4 linked regions of the Homo sapiens genome follow. The protein of the gene in region 1 purifies or fractionates together with the protein of each later gene. This does not show direct contact. Each region holds a gene or a part of one and is shown in the gene's direction. Other genes may lie near its edges.

What was found. Proteins that work in one complex are often made in the same cells at the same time.
Region 2: the proteins of POLDIP3 (region 1) and UBR1 purify together in Homo sapiens (affinity purification with mass spectrometry; 2 studies listed by BioGRID and IntAct, with this or other methods). This does not show direct contact.
Region 3: the proteins of POLDIP3 (region 1) and A2ML1 purify together in Homo sapiens (affinity purification with mass spectrometry; one large-scale study listed by BioGRID and IntAct). This does not show direct contact.
Region 4: the proteins of POLDIP3 (region 1) and KLHL22 purify together in Homo sapiens (affinity purification with mass spectrometry; one large-scale study listed by BioGRID and IntAct). This does not show direct contact.

Annotation. Positions count from the first base shown.
Region 1 is NC_000022.11:42,586,728-42,591,824, reverse strand, and holds part of POLDIP3 (polymerase delta-interacting protein 3), read left to right. Parts: intron 1-4,252; coding exon 4,253-4,319; intron 4,320-5,097. UniProt on the Homo sapiens protein: Is involved in regulation of translation. Is preferentially associated with CBC-bound spliced mRNA-protein complexes during the pioneer round of mRNA translation. Contributes to enhanced translational efficiency of spliced over nonspliced mRNAs.
Region 2 is NC_000015.10:43,022,539-43,026,836, reverse strand, and holds part of UBR1 (E3 ubiquitin-protein ligase UBR1), read left to right. Parts: intron 1-173; coding exon 174-276; intron 277-1,407; coding exon 1,408-1,456; intron 1,457-1,853; coding exon 1,854-2,008; intron 2,009-4,035; coding exon 4,036-4,135; intron 4,136-4,298. UniProt on the Homo sapiens protein: E3 ubiquitin-protein ligase which is a component of the N-end rule pathway. Recognizes and binds proteins bearing specific N-terminal residues that are destabilizing according to the N-end rule, leading to their ubiquitination and subsequent degradation.
Region 3 is NC_000012.12:8,852,823-8,857,120, forward strand, and holds part of A2ML1 (alpha-2-macroglobulin-like protein 1 isoform 1 precursor), read left to right. Parts: intron 1-1,305; coding exon 1,306-1,427; intron 1,428-1,957; coding exon 1,958-2,009; intron 2,010-2,686; coding exon 2,687-2,770; intron 2,771-4,298. UniProt on the Homo sapiens protein: Is able to inhibit all four classes of proteinases by a unique 'trapping' mechanism. This protein has a peptide stretch, called the 'bait region' which contains specific cleavage sites for different proteinases.
Region 4 is NC_000022.11:20,485,796-20,490,093, reverse strand, and holds part of KLHL22 (kelch-like protein 22), read left to right. Parts: exon of another isoform or gene 1-263; coding exon of another isoform or gene 264-326; intron 327-849; coding exon of another isoform or gene 850-882; coding exon 883-1,109; intron 1,110-4,298. UniProt on the Homo sapiens protein: Substrate-specific adapter of a BCR (BTB-CUL3-RBX1) E3 ubiquitin ligase complex required for chromosome alignment and localization of PLK1 at kinetochores.

The DNA of each region.
Region 1 (5,097 bases):
CTGCCGTGCAGTCTCTGAGTAGTCCTGAGCTGTGGGTTACACAGGGCCCTGGATTTTCACCCAGCCCTTAAGCTTTTGAGCCCAGCAAAAAGGAAAACAGCATTTCTCCATGGATGGTTCTCTTAAGGGGTCTTGCCAGGGGAGCCAAGAGGCACAGCTGTTGCCTCCCAGATGTTGATCTGTTTAGTGCTAGGGCAGAAGTTCCTCCCAGCCCTGGAGTTTTGTCTGAATGTTGACACCTGGGTGAGAGCTGCTCCTGGTGGGTAAACAACAGACTTTATTGACTTGAGGTTCATATTTTTCATCTCCAGACAGCCTGTAGAGAAGAATTCTGTCTGCCATGCTCCTTTTCCACTCATTTGTTCTTTCAGTATGTATTGAGTGCCTACTGTGGACCAAGGCCCTGTGCTAGAAGTGGAGAAGCAGAGACTAATAAAACAATACAACAATAAAAAAAATTACAAATAAAAGACCTGGAGCCTTGGCTAAATCTTGGCACCTGGGTGAACTCCCCTGGGTGAGTCAGTGGAGTTCTGATTTGCATTTCCCCATGGCTAATGATGTTGAGCACCTTTTCATGTGCTTATTGGCCATTTGTATGTCATTAAAGAAATTAATTTTGTTTTGAATTTCTGTTCTTTTTTTGTTTTTTCTTATTTTTTGTCATATGTTTGGATGTGGAAAGATACTTATTTTCCTTTTTCTTTCTTTTTTTTATTTTTATTTTTTATTATTTTTTTATTTTTTTATTTTTTTTGAGTTTCTCTCTGTTGCCCAGGCTGGGGTGCAGTGGCGTGATCTCAGCTCACTGCAACCTCCGCCTCCCCGGTTCAAGCGGCTTTCCTGCCTCAGCCTCCCAAGTAGCTGGGACTACAGGTGCACGCCACCAAGCCCAGCTAATTTTTTTGTATTTTTAGTAGAGATAGGGTTTCACCATGTTGGCCGGGCTGGTCTCAAACTCCTGACCTCAGGTGATCTGCCCACCTCGGCCTCTCAAAAGTGCTAGGATTATAGGCATGAGCCACTGTGCCCAGCTATCTTTGGAGAAATGCCTGTACAGAATCTTTGTCTGCTTTTTAAATACTGAGTTGTAGAAGTACTTTACATATTCTTAAGTCCCTTATCAGATAAGTGATTTACCAATATTTTCTCCCATTCTGTAGGTTTATTTCTGCTTTTTAATGTATTCATATGCAGTATAAGGACTTTTTGGTTAACAGCAGACCACATATATGACAGTGGGCCCATAACATTATAATACCATATTTTTACTGTATTTTTTCTACGTTTAGATGTACAAATACAGTTGCCTACTCTACTCAGTAGAGTAACATGCTGTACAGCCGGGTGTGGTGGCTGAAGCCTGTAATTCCAGCACTTTGGGAGGCTGAGGCAGGAGGATCGCTTGAGCCTAGAAACTTGAGACCAACCTGTGCAACGTGGCAAGACCCTGTCTCAAAAAATAAATTAGCTGGGCGCGTGGTGGCGTGTGCCTGTAGTCCCAGATGCTGGGGAGGCTGAGGTGGGAGGATCACTTGAGCCTGGGAAGTTGAGGCTGTAGTGAGCTGTGATCGTGCCACTGCACTCTGGAATGTATTCCCATGGTTAAATGATACATGACTGTATGTGCATTTACAGCTATATATTCTAAGCATGGCTGTAACTGCATTCCGTGTTTTGGTATATCATGCCTTCATTTTCATTCATCTTGAATTATTTTCTAATCTCCCTTGTGATTTCTCCTTTGACCCATTGGTTATTTAGGATTGTTTCAATTTCCATATATTCATGAATTTTCCAGATTTTCTTTTCTTCTATGAGTGTTTAAGGAAAATATGTATTTTCTTGTTGTTAGGTGGAATGTTCTGTACATGTCTATTATGTCTTGTTGCTTTGTAATGTTTAAGTGCGTTTCATTGTTGATCTGCTTGGTTCTATCTAGTATTGAAAGTGAAATACTGAGGTTCTGTTTTTTTTTTTTGATACGGAGTCTCCCTCTGTCACCCAGGCTGGAGTGCAGTGGCATGATCTCAGCTCACTGCAACCTCTGCCTCCCGGGTTCAAGCAATTCTCCTGCCTCAGCCTCCCAAGTAGCTGGGATTACAGGTGCCCACTGTCACGCCCAGCTAATATTTGTATTTTTCGTAGAGATGGGGTTTCACTGTGTCAGCCAGGATGGTCTTGATTTCCTGACCTCATGTTGGCCAGGCTGGTTTTGAAGTCCTGACCTCAAGTGATCCGTCCACCTGGGCTTCCCAAAGTGCTGGGATTAGAGGTGTGAGCCACTGCACCCGGCGAGATCTTTATTACTGTTGGTCTGTTCCTTTCACTTCTGTGTATTTTTATTTTATATATTTGAGGTTCTGTTGTTACTTGCATATATGTTTGATTGTTTTCTTCCTGATGAATTGACCCTTCAGTCAAATTTAAATCTCTCTTTACCTCTAGTCACTTTTTTTGTTGTTTTAAAGTATATTTCATTTTATATTACTAATAGCTAATAAGCTAATAAGTAAAAGACCAGCTTTCTTAGGGTTGCTATTTGAGTGATATATCTTTGTTCACTTTTTTTTTTTTTTTTTGAGACGGAGTCTCGCTCTGTCGCCCAGGCTGGAATGCAGTGGCATGATCTTGGCTCACTGCAACGTCTTCCTCCCAGGTTCAAGCGATTTTTGTGCCTCAGCCTCCTGAGTGGCTGAGACTACAGGTGTGCACCACCACACTCAGCTAATTTTTAGTATTTTTAGTAGAAATGGGGTTTCTGCCATGTTGGCCAGGCTGCTGTCAAACTCCTGGCTTCAAGTGATCTGCCCATCTCAGCCTTGCAAAGTGCTGGGATTACAGGCATGAGCCACCAAGCCTGGCCCACTCTTACTTTCAATCTTTTTCTCTCATCAACTGTAAAAATGTGTTTCCTAGGCTGGGCACAATGGCTCACTCCTGTAATCCGCCAGGCGGATCACCTGATTGGGAGTTCGAGACCAGCTTGACCAATATGAGGAAACCCCATCTCTACTAAAAATACAAAATTAGCCAGGTGTGGTGGTACATGCCTGTAATCCCAGTTACTCCGGAGGCTGAGGCAGGATAATCGCTTGAACCCAGGAGGCGGAGGTTGCCGTGAGCCGAGATCGCACCATTGCCCTCCAGCCTGGGCAATAAGAGCGAAACTCCATCTCAAAAAAAAAAAAAAAGAAAGAAAGAAAAATGTGTCACCTATAGAGAGTGTATAGTTAGATCTTACTGGTTTTTTTTTTATTTGAATTCAATCTGACAATCTGTCTTTGGATTGGATTATTTAATCCATTCATATTTAATATTGATAATTAGGTTTATTTCTTCCATTTTACTTTTTTTTTTTTTTTTTTGAGGTGGAGTCTCGCTCTGTTGCCCAGGCTGGAGTGCAGTGGCATGTGGTCTCTGCTCACTGCAAGCTCTACCTCCCAGGTTCACGCCATTCTCCTGCTTCAGCCTCCTGAGTAGCTGGGACTACAGGCGCCCGCCACCACACCCAGCTAATTTTTTGTATTTTTAGCAGGGACGGGGTTTCACCATGTTAGCCAGGATGGTCTCGATCTCCTGACTTCGTGATCCACCCGCCTCAGCCTCTCAAAGTGCTGGGATTACAGGCGTGAGCCACCGCGCCCGGCCCCATTTTACTTTTTTGTTCCTCTTCAGTGGCTTTTCTTTCACATTTTTTCCCCAATATTTTAATTCCTTTAATGATGTATTCACTAACTTAACTCGAGTAAGATATGGAAATGTTACTCCCACATGGCCCTGTTCCTTCTTCCTCTTTTTTGTGCTATTACCGTTACACATGTTATGCTTTGTATACAGTGGGAGTGTGGTCTTCCTAGTGCTTCATCCTTTGTAGACAGAGTAGAAGCCTGTACATAATGCTTTTGATCATCTTTTCACTGAATTTGATAGCATAAACCTTTTCCCTTACTACTTGGATGGCTTCACATTGAGTCTCGTTTCTCCCTCACTTCCCACTCATCTCTTCCTGTATGAAGCAAGGTTTGTGGCCACTTTGCCTCTTGGTGCTCCACTGCTGAGGTTTCCTCACGCCCTGGGATTTTCTTAGTGTCTGGCTTGACTGGAACCTAGCAGCCCCATCTCCATCTGTGGAGCCAGAACTGCCAGTGGTGGGTGCTTTGACCATTGATAATGGAGGTACAGCCCTTGTCCTCTTGTGTGAGGAGCCGAGGTCTCATAGCAGAGCCTTTTTCTTTCTTTGGTTTTTCAGGGCAGCCGATGAAGTGCAACCTTCACATGAATGGGAATGTTATCACCTCAGACCAGCCCATCCTGCTGTGAGTTCCAAAGGCGGGGTGCTGGGGAGAGGCAGCTCCGTCCATCTCTTTTTGTTCTAATGGGTAAACTGCCTGCATCACAGCTCCCCTTCATCCCCCCATTCCGTTTCCTCTGTTCTAATGGCAGCTGGCCGTTTCATATGCTTAAACTTGACCAAAATGGTTTGCTTTGTTATTTCCCCAGGGCTTGACCCTATAGGGACTAGCATTATGATCTCGTTCTCAGCTTTCTGATTTAGAAATATCTGAGTGGAAGTTGGAGGGGGAGGCTGCTTGGGTCTCCTAGCTGTGTGCATCATCCCGGGAACAGAGAACTCCACTGCATGATTGGCTCTGATGGAGACAGTGCCAGATGCTACCCCTTATTTTGTTCCCCAGTGAGGTTTTTTGTTTGTTTGTTTGTTTGTTTGTTTTTTGCTTTTTCAGTTATTTTGAGAGTCTCACTGTGTTGCCCAGGTTGGTTTCAAACTCCTGGGGTCAAGCAACCCTCTCCCCTCAGCCTCCTGAGGACCTGGGACTATAGGCGCACACCATCACGCCCAGCTGGATTTGGCTTTTAAGTACAGTGGGAAGCCATTGAAGGCTTTTGTTGCACACAGCTGAGTATACATGCCTGGCCCAGGACTGAGGGATGTTTTGAAGCCTGAGATGCATAAAATGTTGAGACTGTGAGGACTTCACCTTCTAGATAAGGAAGCAGATACCAGGGAGGAGGTTAGACTTGCCAGGGTGAGTGGGATAGTGTGGGGCAGGGCTGAAATAGACTTTGAGATTTAAA
Region 2 (4,298 bases), on another chromosome or scaffold:
GTTCACAATGTAGGTTTTTAGTTTTATTATTGCAATGGAATTTTTCATAAGCTAAATGAGACATAATTTTTTTCTGTATATTTGACTTCTAGATTAATTTTTAGGTTTTTATTTTGTCTATATTTTATACTTCAAGAACACTGCAGTTCATCTTGTATTTTCCATCTATTTAGGAAACCAGGTGTATCAGGCCATGGAGTTTATGAACTAAAAGATGAATCACTGAAAGACTTCAATATGTACTTTTATCATTACTCCAAAACCCAGCATAGCAAGGTAGAAAAAAGTATCCTTTTCAGTAAATAAACCTAAATGCTTTATGCTTTCTAACTCCACAGAAAATTTTCTGCTTTTTCTATAGTTTCACGCTGGTTCTTATTAATAGAGGTCATTATGTCACCCAAGAATTAAAATTGAATCAATAATCTTATCTAGTATACAGGCAATATTCAGATTTTCCTGATTATACTACATATGTCTTTAATAGCTGTTTTGGGAAGAGGATTCAATCAAGCATCATGGACTTCATCATCACACACTCATTTGATTGTCATGTTTCTTTAGTTTTTGTTTTGTTTTGTTTTTTGTTTTTGTTTTTGTTTTGTGAAATGGAGCCTCACTCTGTTGTCCAGGCTGGAACGTAGTTGCACGATATCAGCTCACTGCAACCTCCACCTCCCAGGTTCAAGTGATTCTCCTGCCCCAGCATCCTGAGTAGCTGGGACTATAGGCACATGCCACCATGCCTGGCTAATTTTTGTATTTTTAGTAAAGACCGGGTTTCACCATGTTGTCCAGGCTGGTCTCAAATTCCTGACCTCAAATGATTCCACCCACCTCGGCCTCCCAACGTCCTGGGATTACAGGCGTGAGCCACCTCGCCCGGCCAATAGTTTCCTTTAATTTAGAAGATAATTCTTTTGCATTTTTTTCTTTTGTAACATCGGCATTTCTATAGAGTACCAAATAGATTCAGCTTAAACAGTTTTTGGCAAGAATACTATGTAAATGATATATTGCATCCCATTATTAGGCACATACGTCTTTTTGTCCCATGAAGGATCATGTTAAGTTTGATCAGTTAGTTAAGGTGATGTCTGGCTTTGTCCTTATCAAGTAAATACTTTACAGCCCATAGCATAGTACCCTGTGCATAATAGGTACTGGGTAAATATTTTCAGTAGAAAATAATGGAGACTAAGTTTTTGATCAGGGATATTCCTCATCTATTTTGCATTAGGTTTCTCTAGAACACAATTTTATTTCTAGGACAAAGAGGCATTTTGAATACATGCTTCAGTATATAAAGTATTTTAATAGGTGGTTGGGTCTTTCCTGACTGCTTTAATGTATTTCATTTGTTTCATGCTTCCAAAGCAGTATATTTAATGATAGATTTTTTTATAGGCTGAACATATGCAGAAGAAAAGGAGAAAACAAGAAAACAAAGATGAAGGTAAAAAGTGAGATTCTGAATTGACTCATTTTGACTATTTTCTGTGGTTTCACATCAGCAAAGCATATAGTTTTTTGTTGTTGTTGGTTTTTGAGAGTGGGCAACTCAAGGAAGTGCAAAGAGCTTTTTGCTTCTTATTCACATATTAAGATATGGTATATATCAGTAGTGATTGAATTTAAAATTGATAACAAATGTAGTTCATTTTGGGTGACTGATATAGTACTTACATTACACTTAACATTGATATTTTCAGTACTGGAAAGGTAGCAAAAAAGCATGTGTTGTTTTGCATGTAACCTATTATTTTTTGACATTTGCACTTTAGTATGTAGGATAACCCAAATAAAAATGTACCTGTTTGTCTCTTTCCCCATCCATTCCCCACCTCCTATAGCATTGCCGCCACCACCACCTCCTGAATTCTGCCCTGCTTTCAGCAAAGTGATTAACCTTCTCAACTGTGATATCATGATGTACATTCTCAGGACCGTATTTGAGCGGGCAATAGACACAGATTCTAACTTGTGGACCGAAGGGATGCTCCAAATGGTTTGTTTACCTGAAATATTTTCTCTACATCAAGTCCTAGAGTTCTTGGGGAGCTAGGGAAGATCTCAGGTCTAACTTCAGTTGGAACCACATCTAGAGCACCGGAAACATAGGGGTCATTAAAAATAGCTTACACACAGCACAAATTTTTTTTAGTGATCTCGTGTTTTTAGCATCCTTACTCTTGGGAACCATTTCTGTTTAATAAAACCCATGAAAACAAAAACAGGTGTACTTATGCTAATAAATTGACATGTTGTTATTGTGTCATGATTTTTTATATTTTTAATTTTACTTGAATTATAAGGAGACAGTATAATAAAATTTGAAGATAGGTCTAGACGTCAGTCTTGGGTTTCCCCACTTCCTATTTAAGGAGCAAATAATAATTTTCTCATTAGTAAAATGGATAAAAGTGTAATTATTCATAGAGGTAGGAGAATTAGCTAAAGTGAAAGCAGCTACTTTTCCTTGTTACTGTTGTAGATAAATACACGTTACTTAATTATGCCACGTCATGGTAGTTGTAACACCATATTTATTTATACCTGCCTAACTAAATGTTCCTTTTTCCTTGAGTATTGTTGGTCTACAGGTTCTAAATGCTGTCATTGCCATATGTGTGCCTCAATTTTTATTATAACACTGATAAATACATTCACTAGTAAATTTCAAACCATAGAGATATGTTTGAAACCAAGTTAAAATTTCTCTCCCTGAGTCCCAGTATGCTATATAGGACATAAGCATTGTTAAAGTTTTGTATATTCTGGAAATCATTGCACATTAGTGCATATAGATCTACTTATTCTTGATAGCTGCGTAGTCCATTGTATGGATATAATGTGTTTCAGTAGTCTCCTATTAATAGACATTCAGGTGTTTCTAGGTCTTTGCTGTAACAAAGAACAATAAAATGTACGTTCTTATACAAATGTTTTTGCATACCTAAGGGAGCGTATTTGTCATACTAATTCCTAATAGTTGGTATATACCTTTACATTTTTGATAGATGTTTTCAAATTGGCCTCCAAAAATGTTATACCAGTTTACTTTACCATCACCACTATGGTCAAAAGTGCCTACTTCCCAATACCTATGCCAGCTCTATATTTTACTAAACACCAAAATTTTTGCCACTGTAATAGGTGAAAAATAGGATGATCTTGTTTCAACTCATTTTTCTTTAAGTGAGGTTGAACTTTTTTTTTTTTTTTTTTTTTTTTTTTTGAGATGGAGTTTCACTTGTCACCCAGGCTGGAGTAGGCTGGAGTGCAGTGACACAATCTTGGCTCACTGCAACTTCCGCCTCTGGGTTCAAGCGATTCTCCTGCCTCAGCCTCCCAAGCAGCTGGGATTACAGATGCCCACCACCACACCTGGCTAATTTTGTATTTTTAGTAGAGACAAGGTTTCACCATGTTGACCAGGCTGGTCATGAACTCCTGACCTCAGGTGATCCACCCACCCAAACCTCCGAAAGTGCTGGGATTACAGAAGTGAGCCACCAGCTCCGGGCCAGGTTGAACATTTTTCATATGTGTATTCATCATTTCTCTTTCTGTAAACTGCTTAATGTGAACTGCTGAAACCTTTCCGTGTTTTTTACCTATCAGCTTTCTTATTTTTATACTTCTACTTAAAATAGATTTACCTTGCTAGGCATGGTGGCCCATACCTGTAATTGCAGCACTTTGGGAAGCTGAAGCAGGAGGATCACTTGAGCGCAGGAGTTTAAGACCAGCCTGGCCAACATAGTGAGATGCTGTCTATACCCCCCGCCCCCTCCAAAAAAAATTTAGCTGGGCGTGGTCGTGTGCACCTCTAGTCCCCAGCTACTCAGGAGGCTGAGGCAGGAGGATCACTTGAGCCCAAGAGCTTAAGGCTGCAGTAAGCTAGGATTGCCCCACTGCACTCCAACCTGGGTGACAGAGTGAGACCAGTCTCTGAAAAAAATTAAAATTAAATTAAAAATATATTTACCTGAAGAAGCGCAATTTTAAAGATCTCTTATTTTCCTCCTTCAGGCTTTTCATATTCTGGCATTGGGTTTACTAGAAGAGAAGCAACAGCTTCAAAAAGCTCCTGAAGAAGAAGTAACATTTGACTTTTATCATAAGGCTTCAAGTATGTTTGAGTATCACTCTTCAACACATTTGTCATTGAAAGTCTAGATCTTAAGGAGTTTTAATTTGTCAATCCTGAAAGTTTATATCTTACAGAGTTTTAATCTGTCAGTCCTTAAAACATAGGTAACCCTGAAATAATTTTTTTCCTAGCATTCTTAGTT
Region 3 (4,298 bases), on another chromosome or scaffold:
GTAGCTAGGATTACAGTCGCGTGCCACCCTACCCGGCTAATTTTTGTACTTTTAGTAGAGGTGGGGTTTTGCCATGTTGGCCAGGCTGGTCTCAAACTCCTGACCTCAGGTGACCTGCCTGCCTCGGCCTCCCAAAGTGCTGGGATTACAGGCGTGAGCCGCTGCGCCTGGCCTTTTATTTTTTTTTAGAGAGACAAGATCTTACTCTGTCACCTAAGCTGGAGTACAGTGGTGTGGTCATTGCTCACTGCAGCCTCAACCTCCCAGGCTCAAGCGATCCTCTCACCTAGGCCTCCGGAGTAGCTGGGACTATAGGCTCATGCCACCACCATGCCTGGCTAATTCAGTTGGCAGAGAAGCGGTCTTGCTCTGTTGCCCAGGCTGTTCTCAAACTCCTGGGTTCAAGTGATTCTCCCGCCTCACCCTTCCAAAGTACTGGGATTACAAGAATGAGTCACTGCACCTTTAACTTGTTTAATCCTCACCCCCAACCCTATGGGATGTCAGTCACTCATAGATTAAATCCTTGCAACTCAAAGTTTGATTTTCATATGTATGAGTTATCTCATGTTGCTTGACAAATTATTGTAAAACTTAAGTGTCATAAAAGGACAAACATTATCAAACAGATTCTATGGGTCATTAATCTGGGTGCAGCTTAGCTGGGTACCTCTGGCTCAAGGTATCTCATGAGGTTGCAATCAAGCTGTCAGTCAGGACTCTGGTTTCATCTGAAGACTCGACTAGGAGAGGATTGATTTTTCAAGCTCATCCCAAAGTCTCTGATCCTTACAGGCTGCTAGACTGAAGGACACAGTTCTTGACCTCAGCTTTTGGCTAGGGGCCTCACTCAGTATCTCATCACATGAATCTCTCTGCTGGGCTGCCTCATCACACAACAGCTGTCTTCCCCAGAGCAAGCAGTTTGAGAAAAGGGGTGCACCCAAGATGGAAGCTGCAGTCTTTTTTGTAACCTAATCCCAGAAGAGTCATTACTTTCACCCTGTTCTCTTTAACAGAAGCGAGTCACTCAATCCAGCTCACACTCAATGGATGTAAATATCAGGATGCAGGGATCTCTGAGGGCCCTTAGAGGTTACCTACCACACTGGACTAGCCTCTCTGGCATCACCTGGGAGCTTGTTAGAAATGCAGAATATGGGCCCCACCCCAGGTCTATGGCAGCAGAGTTTGCACTGTTGCAAGATCCCCATTAAAGTTTCAGAAATGCTGATCCAAATGGGAATGGACCTCACTGGTACCTCTGGCAATAGGGCTAATGGCTTCCCTTCTTCTTTCTCTCAGGTCACATTAACTTTACTATTAGTACAAAGATTCTGGACAGCAATGAACCATGTGGGGGCCAGAAGGGGTTTGTTCCCCAAAAGGGCCGAAGTGACACGCTCATCAAGCCAGTTCTCGTCAAAGTGAGTTTTCTTCAGAGGTAGAGACAGCAACCAACCGAGGGATGCTCAGCATCTCGTCTTGCTGTGAGTTAGTCTCTCACAGCAACCATACTCCAGTCCAACCAGGCAGCTTCAACTTTCTCCTTCCCTGGCCCCTTGAACATTTGCCTAATCCACACCCACGGCCTATGAAAGCACCTAAAACCCGGCACCTCATAGGCACTCAACAAATGTTAGTTTACCTAATTAAAATGTCTGTCTTCATCAATAGCTGCCTTTTTCGTCCCATCATGAAGCCCATTGTCAATCTTGCCTCTTAGAAGTTGCCTAAATGTGTCTTTGGCTCTAGCACTTGCCCAGAAAGAACTTTACAGAAAGGGCCCATCCTTGGGTTGACGCAGAGTTCTTCTGAGCTTCAGTGAGAAGCTCTTGTCTGCAGTTCTGAGGGAAGCCCTGGGGGCACAGCGAGGGGCCTCCCTTCCCTTTCCTTTAGTGCCATCCCTCCTGATGTTCATCTTTGTTGTTTTTATCTGTGTCTCTCTTCATCGCAGCCTGAGGGAGTCCTGGTGGAGAAGACACACAGCTCATTGCTGTGCCCAAAAGGTGGGTGGACTCAGAGCAGGATTGGTGGTGAGAATTCCCTTAGAGGGCAGGAGATTTTCTTTTCATTTTTTTTTTTTTTTTGAGACGGAGTCTCGCTCCGTCGTCCAGGCTGGATTGCAGTGGCACGATTTCAGCTCATTGCAACCTCTGCCTCCCGGGTTCAAGTGATTCTACTGCCTTAGTCTCCTGAGTAGCTGGGACTACAGGTACATGCCACCATGCCTGGCTAATTTTTGTATTTTTAGTAGAGATGGGGTTTCACCATATTGGCCAGGCTGGTCTCGAACTCCTGACCTTGTGATCCTCCTGCCTTGGCCTCCCAAAGTGCTGGGATTACAGGCGTGAGCCACTGCACCCGGCAGCAGGAGATTTTCATAGGCAAAAGGAGGAATGCATAGTACCAGAAGGAATAGGAGAGTCTGAAGTGCCATTCCTCATGGGGCTGATTAACTGGGAGGCAGGAGGAAGAAGAGAAAGTGTGCAGCACGATGATGACTCTCTGTGGAATTTATTTTCAGCAAGATCACTATGAATAGTACCCAGTGCTTTCTGCATCCCAGAGAAAGCACCGAGTACAGAAATCCCTGGATTATAGAAAGTTCTTCTAAAATTTTGTCTTGAGAACCCCTGCCATTCCCCATCTTCTATTGTGTCACCTTTTTTTCTGCATCTCACAGGAAAGGTGGCATCTGAATCTGTCTCCCTGGAGCTCCCAGTGGACATTGTTCCTGACTCGACCAAGGCTTATGTTACGGTTCTGGGTAAGCAGTTAGAGATTCTTGACTCAGAAAGGAAAAGGCGAATGGAGGCTGCAAAGGTGTGGAGTGGGGCGGGACATACGGACCTATCCGGAGAGTGTAACTAATAACAAGTGATGAAGGAAAAAGAGCGTATTTTATATAGGAGGGAAATACAGTGTAGGCAACAGTACAGATGGGATTAGACTTGTACTCTAGTTAAAAATGGAAGAGAGTCAGGGTAGGAAGAAGGTAAGGTCGCTGATGCTTGATTTTAGGTTTAGACAGTCTATAAATTGGGTGAAGGGAAAACAGAATATTTGCAGCAACCATTTTCAAAACTGAGGAATTTGGGTATAGTTTAGGGAAGATACAACCATATTTACAATAGGCAGCACACTTACTGTTTGGGGCAAGGGAGGAAGTGGGTTGAAAAGCATGAACGTAGAAATCATATCTAACCTGTCATTTAATAGCCATGTGACCCTGAACAAGTTAGTGAACAGTTCTGGGCCTTCTTTCCTCTTCTGTAAAACAGTGATAATAACCTACCTCTCAGACTGGTGTAAAGATTAAATGCAATATAAAGTCCCCAGCACAATATCTAGCATGTAGTAGGAGCCCTATGAATGTTAGGCTCTTTCTTTACTCCCTCACCCTCTATTGAGATCCTTTGCAGTCACAGTGTCTCTGTTTTGTCTATTTTATTCGTAAGTCTGACATAGCACTTATCTTATTGTATTAGAGTTCACTGTCTATATCTGTCTTCCACACTGTGTTGGGGGCTCCTGAAGAGGAAGGGCCACATCTTTTTCTTTTGTGTTCCTAGTACAGTTCCTGCAACATAGTTGACATTCAGGACACATTTATAGATTGAATTGAGCTTGTTGGCTACAATGCAGATGTTAATGAGTCACTTATGTCAGGTTCACTGGCTTGGGAAGTATATGAAGGGGTCAGTGACAACTTGGAAAAGAGTGTCAGAACTGTGTTTTAGAGAAACTTGGTGATTTGGAGGGTGAGGAACGTACATGCAGTGGTAGAGGAGCTTAAGAGATTGATCCTAAGTGTTATAAGTTTTGTCACATCACTCATCAGCTCAGTGACATGTCTTCTTAAAAGCCCTGAACTCTCTTAGATAGCTTATGTGCCTCTCCGTGTCCCCTAGCACCTCGTACATATCCAGTATGACATTGTAGTACTGTATTAAAATTGTTTATAATGAATAAAAATTGTAATGTGTTGTAATGGTTTGCTCCTCTGTGAGTTTTTTTGAGGGTAGAGACCGAGTTTGATTTACTGTGGTCTTCCCAGGACACACAGTAGGTACTTTTTTTTTTTTTTTTTTTGTATTTTTAGTAGAGACAGGGTTTGTCCATGTTGGTCAGGCTGGTCTCGAACTCCTGACCTCAGGTGATCCACCCTCCTCGGCCTCCCATACTGCTGGAATTACAGGCGTGAGCCACCACGCCCGGCCCATAGTAGGTACTTATTAAATGATAGCTAATACGTGTTTGTTCAGTGAATGATGATAACTCTTAGAGGGTCCCTT
Region 4 (4,298 bases), about 22 Mb from region 1:
CTCCCTGACCTGAACAGCTGGCTATCCACAGTCACTTTTGGTTGCTCCATGGCAAAAGTGCATTTGCAGTAGGTTCATTTTACTGATTAGGTTTTAGAGGCTCCAATTCAAATCAGTTTGCGGTTTTTGAACGTACTGACTCAATTATTAGAAGATAATCTTTAATTTAAAAGGCAATGCAGATGAATTTAAATGCATCAGGTTCAATCACAGTTACTGTGCTTGACTCTCAGAATTTCAGTAAAGGAAAGTAGGCCCTGGAAATGCCACCCCCTTGGCACCCACCTCCCAGACTCCTGGCTGTGTGTCTCCTGACCACTACTCAGGTCTTGCCATTTTTATGCATCCATTACTATGAGGAAGAACCCAATTTTGTTCATTCAATGGGAGGGAGGAAGAGCTCTTGAGAACCTGGTGTGTGCTTATGCTTCATGTTCATTGTTTTACCAATTTTAGAATACCCCAATGGGGTAGGTACTTTTATCTCTCTTTTTAAAATTGGGGAGCTCGAGGCTCAGTTTGGTCATGTTGTAAGTCCCTGTGGAGTTGGGCTCCAACCCAGGTCAGTCTGTTTCCCAAAACCCTTCTGTTTGACTTTGCCGCTGAAGAAGATACAATGAGATGAAGAGTCTTGGGCATGATGGCACACAGGTCATCAGGAAGAAGGCCATCAGGAAGTTGGACTAGAGGTGGGAGGGGAGAAGGAATTAGGGGATTTGGAAATAGAGGGAAAACAGGTGAGCCTGAGGGAGGCACAGGAGCAAGGGGAGCAACAGAGCTGGCCAGTCTGTGTGTGGTGGGGCTGATGCCTGCCTGCTCACCCCTGTCCCCTGTTTTGCCAACTGTCAGGCCACAGTTGTAAGGGATCTTGTGGCTGTCAGGATGGCAGAGGAGCAGGAGTTCACCCAGCTCTGCAAGTTGCCTGCACAGCCCTCACACCCACACTGCGTGAACAACACCTACCGCAGCGCACAGCACTCCCAGGCTCTGCTCCGAGGGCTGCTGGCTCTCCGGGACAGCGGAATCCTCTTCGATGTTGTGCTGGTGGTGGAGGGCAGACACATCGAGGCCCATCGCATCCTGCTGGCTGCGTCCTGCGATTACTTCAGGTGAGTTCACTAGAGCTGTTTGTAAGAAGAATAACAAAGGTAATCCTGGCTCTGCTAGTAAAGGTACTGGCGGTGACAGTGGCTGGTCTCCTGCTCACCTCAGAGCCTCCCCTACTCCTTGTGGCTATGACTTAGTCAACAAGTGTGAGAGACAGAAGGGGGTCTTAGAGTTCATTTTTCATTCAGTGATCCTGTTTCTTGGGCTTTGCCTCCTCTTCTCTTCCCTCTCTTCTCTTCCTTTTCTTTTCCTTTTCTCTCTCTTTTCTTTTCTCTTTTCTTTCCTCCTTTCTCTCCTCCCCTCCCTTACCATTCCTCCCCTCCGTCAGTAATTATTGCTGTGTATGCATCACCTTCTGGCTCACACCTCTCATCCCTCAGGTGTTAGCCTCTGGCCCTCCCAGTGAGCTCTGTGGCCCCTCTGGGGTTTCTTATGGCCTCCTTCGTGACCCCATCCCAGCACTTGGCACAGTGTGAGGAACCACTGGCTTATCTGTCTTTTCCACTGGGTTGGAATCTGTCTCTTATCCCTAGCACCTGACATGGTTTTCACATATTCAAACAATACCCATGGCTTAAATGAATAAATTTATGTACACAGATAGCAGATCAATACACCATTTGCCCTGTTGTCTGCACTGCTCTGCACTCAAGGAGGTGGGTGTCACCACCCTTATTTCACATAGGTGGCATGAGCCTGAGAAGGACTGAGGGCCACTCGTGGTCCCCAGCAAGGTTGTCATGGGACTCCAAGCCTGAGGTGTTCCATTCTAGCTCTGATTCTGTTCAATCATTTTGTCTTCAAGGCTTAGTTGTAGTTCTCTCTCTCTCTCTTTCTCTTTATCTCTCTCTATTTTTTTAATTAGGAACTATCAAGCAAAATATGTATGGTTTAAGTGCCTTCTGTCTCCAAAAGGAGTTTTGGAGAATGTGACCCAGTGGTGGCTTGGTGCAGATGTGTCCAGGAGCAGCAGAATTCTTTCAGTTCACCAGGGAAATTCAGCTGAGGCCTTTAATAAGCATTAAGATAACATACAGGACAGTGGGTAGGGTAGAGGAGCTGAGGGCCCCCTGCAGGGGACTTAGGACCTGTATAGGAGAGGATGGCCAGAGGCTGTGGAGCCTATGGGATCCCCTGGGCTCACCCTCTCAGCCCTTCTTGATTTAGTGTCATACCACTCTTTCTGAAGATGACAGTGTAGGCAGCCTTTCGCTAATCTGTCAAAAACCTTATGTGGCTTTCCACGTCCTCCAGGAGCAATTTCTAGCCCTTTCCACAGCCCCCCTTGGGTAAACCTCTTATGAGAGGTGTCCTGCTCTCCGGGATGATTACAATGCATCACTAACACCCCCTGCATCCCTCCACTTCCATTGGGAAGGGGAGCGGGAGAGTGGCAACATTATTGGAAGAGCCCAGAGTCATTTCACAGGGGGGTGTGTGTGTGTATGTATAAATAAGAAATAGAGGCCAGTCACGGTGGCTCACACCTGTAATCCCAGCACTTTGGGAGGCCAAGGCAGGTGGATCACTTGAGGCCAGGAGTTTGAGACTAGCCTGGCCAACATGGTGAAACCCTGTCTCTACTAAAAAAAAAAAAAAAAATTAGCTGGGTGTAGTGGTGGGCGCCTGTAATCCCAGCTACTTGGGAGGCTGAGGCAGGAGAGTTGCTTGAACACAGGATGCGGAGGTTGCAGTGAGCCGAGATTGTGCCACTGCATTCCAGCCTGGGTGACAGAGCAAGACCCTGTTTCAAAAAAACAAAAAAGAGGCTGGATGTAGTGGCTCACGCCTGTAATCCTAGAACTTTGGGAGGCCGAGGCGGGTGGATCACCTGAGATTAGTAGTTCGAGACCAGCCTGGCCAACATAGTGAAACTCCGTCTCTGCTAAAAATACAAAAACTAGCGGGGCGTGGTGGCACATGCCTGTAATCCCAGTTACTTGGGAGGCTGAGGCAGGAGAATCACTTGAACCCAGGAGGCGGAGGTTGCAGTGAGCCTAGAAAGAGGCCAGGCTTGGTGGCTCACTCCTATAATTCCAGCACTTCGGGAGGCCAAGGAGGGCGGATAACTTGAGGTCAGGAGTTGGAGACCAGCCTGACCCACATGGCAATACCCTGTCTCTACTAAAAATACAAAATTAGCTGGGCGTGGTAGCACATGCCTGTAATCCCAGCTACTCAGGAGGCTGAAGCAGGAGAATTGCTTGAACCCGGGAGGCGGAGGTTGCAGTGAGCCGAGATTGCGCCACTGCATTCCAGCCTGGGCAACAAGAATGAAACTCCGTCTCAAAAAAAAAAAAAAAGAAAAGAAATAGACCATTCCCAAGTGTTAGCATGTTTATTATTTGTTTTAGTTACTTGTGAAATGTTAAAATGATAAAGGACTATTTTTTTCCCAGTATGACTGGTAAATATGTGTGAGAGGCTTGTAATATTTGATATGGGCAAGGGTAGAGAGAAGGGCATTTAGGGGTGGGCTGGCCCATAGTTTAGGGCCCTGCAGTTGTATGTTGGGTGTCTAGGTGTCATTCCTGTGGGACGATGCACCCAGTGCTGAGACATGGTGCAGGACAGAGCCTTTCTGTGTTATCCAATGGAGCTACTTGCAAACTGGGCAGTGTGGTGTGTCTACTGATAGGGAGTGAAAAACCTCAGGACCTGGTGGAAGATGATCCCAACCATGAAGATCTGGAAGGATCTTGCTGCACCGTGGGGACTCAGCAAAGGGCAAAGGGAGAGGGAGGCTGAATTTCTTCTGTTTACTGCATTGTCTGAATTATTTTACAAAGAACATAAATTTCTTTTTTTTTTTTTTTTTTTGAGACGGAATCTCACTCTGTCACCCAGGCTGGAGTGCAGTGGTGTGATCTCGGCTCACTGCAACCTCTGCCTCCGGGTTCAAGCAATTCTCCTGCCTCAGCCTCTCGAGTAGCTGGGACTACAGGTGTGCGCCACCACGCCCGGCTAATTTTTTGTATTTTTAGTAGAGACAGGGTTTCACCATGTTGGCCAGGCTGATCTCGAACTCCTGACCTTGTGATTTGCCCTCCTTGGCCTCCCAAAGTGCTGGGATGACAGGTGTGAGCCACACCACGCCCAGCCTTTTGTTTGTTTGTTTTGAGATGGAGTCTCGCCCTGTCCCCCAGGCTGAAGTGCAGTGGGGCAATCTCGGCTCACTGCAACCTCTGCCT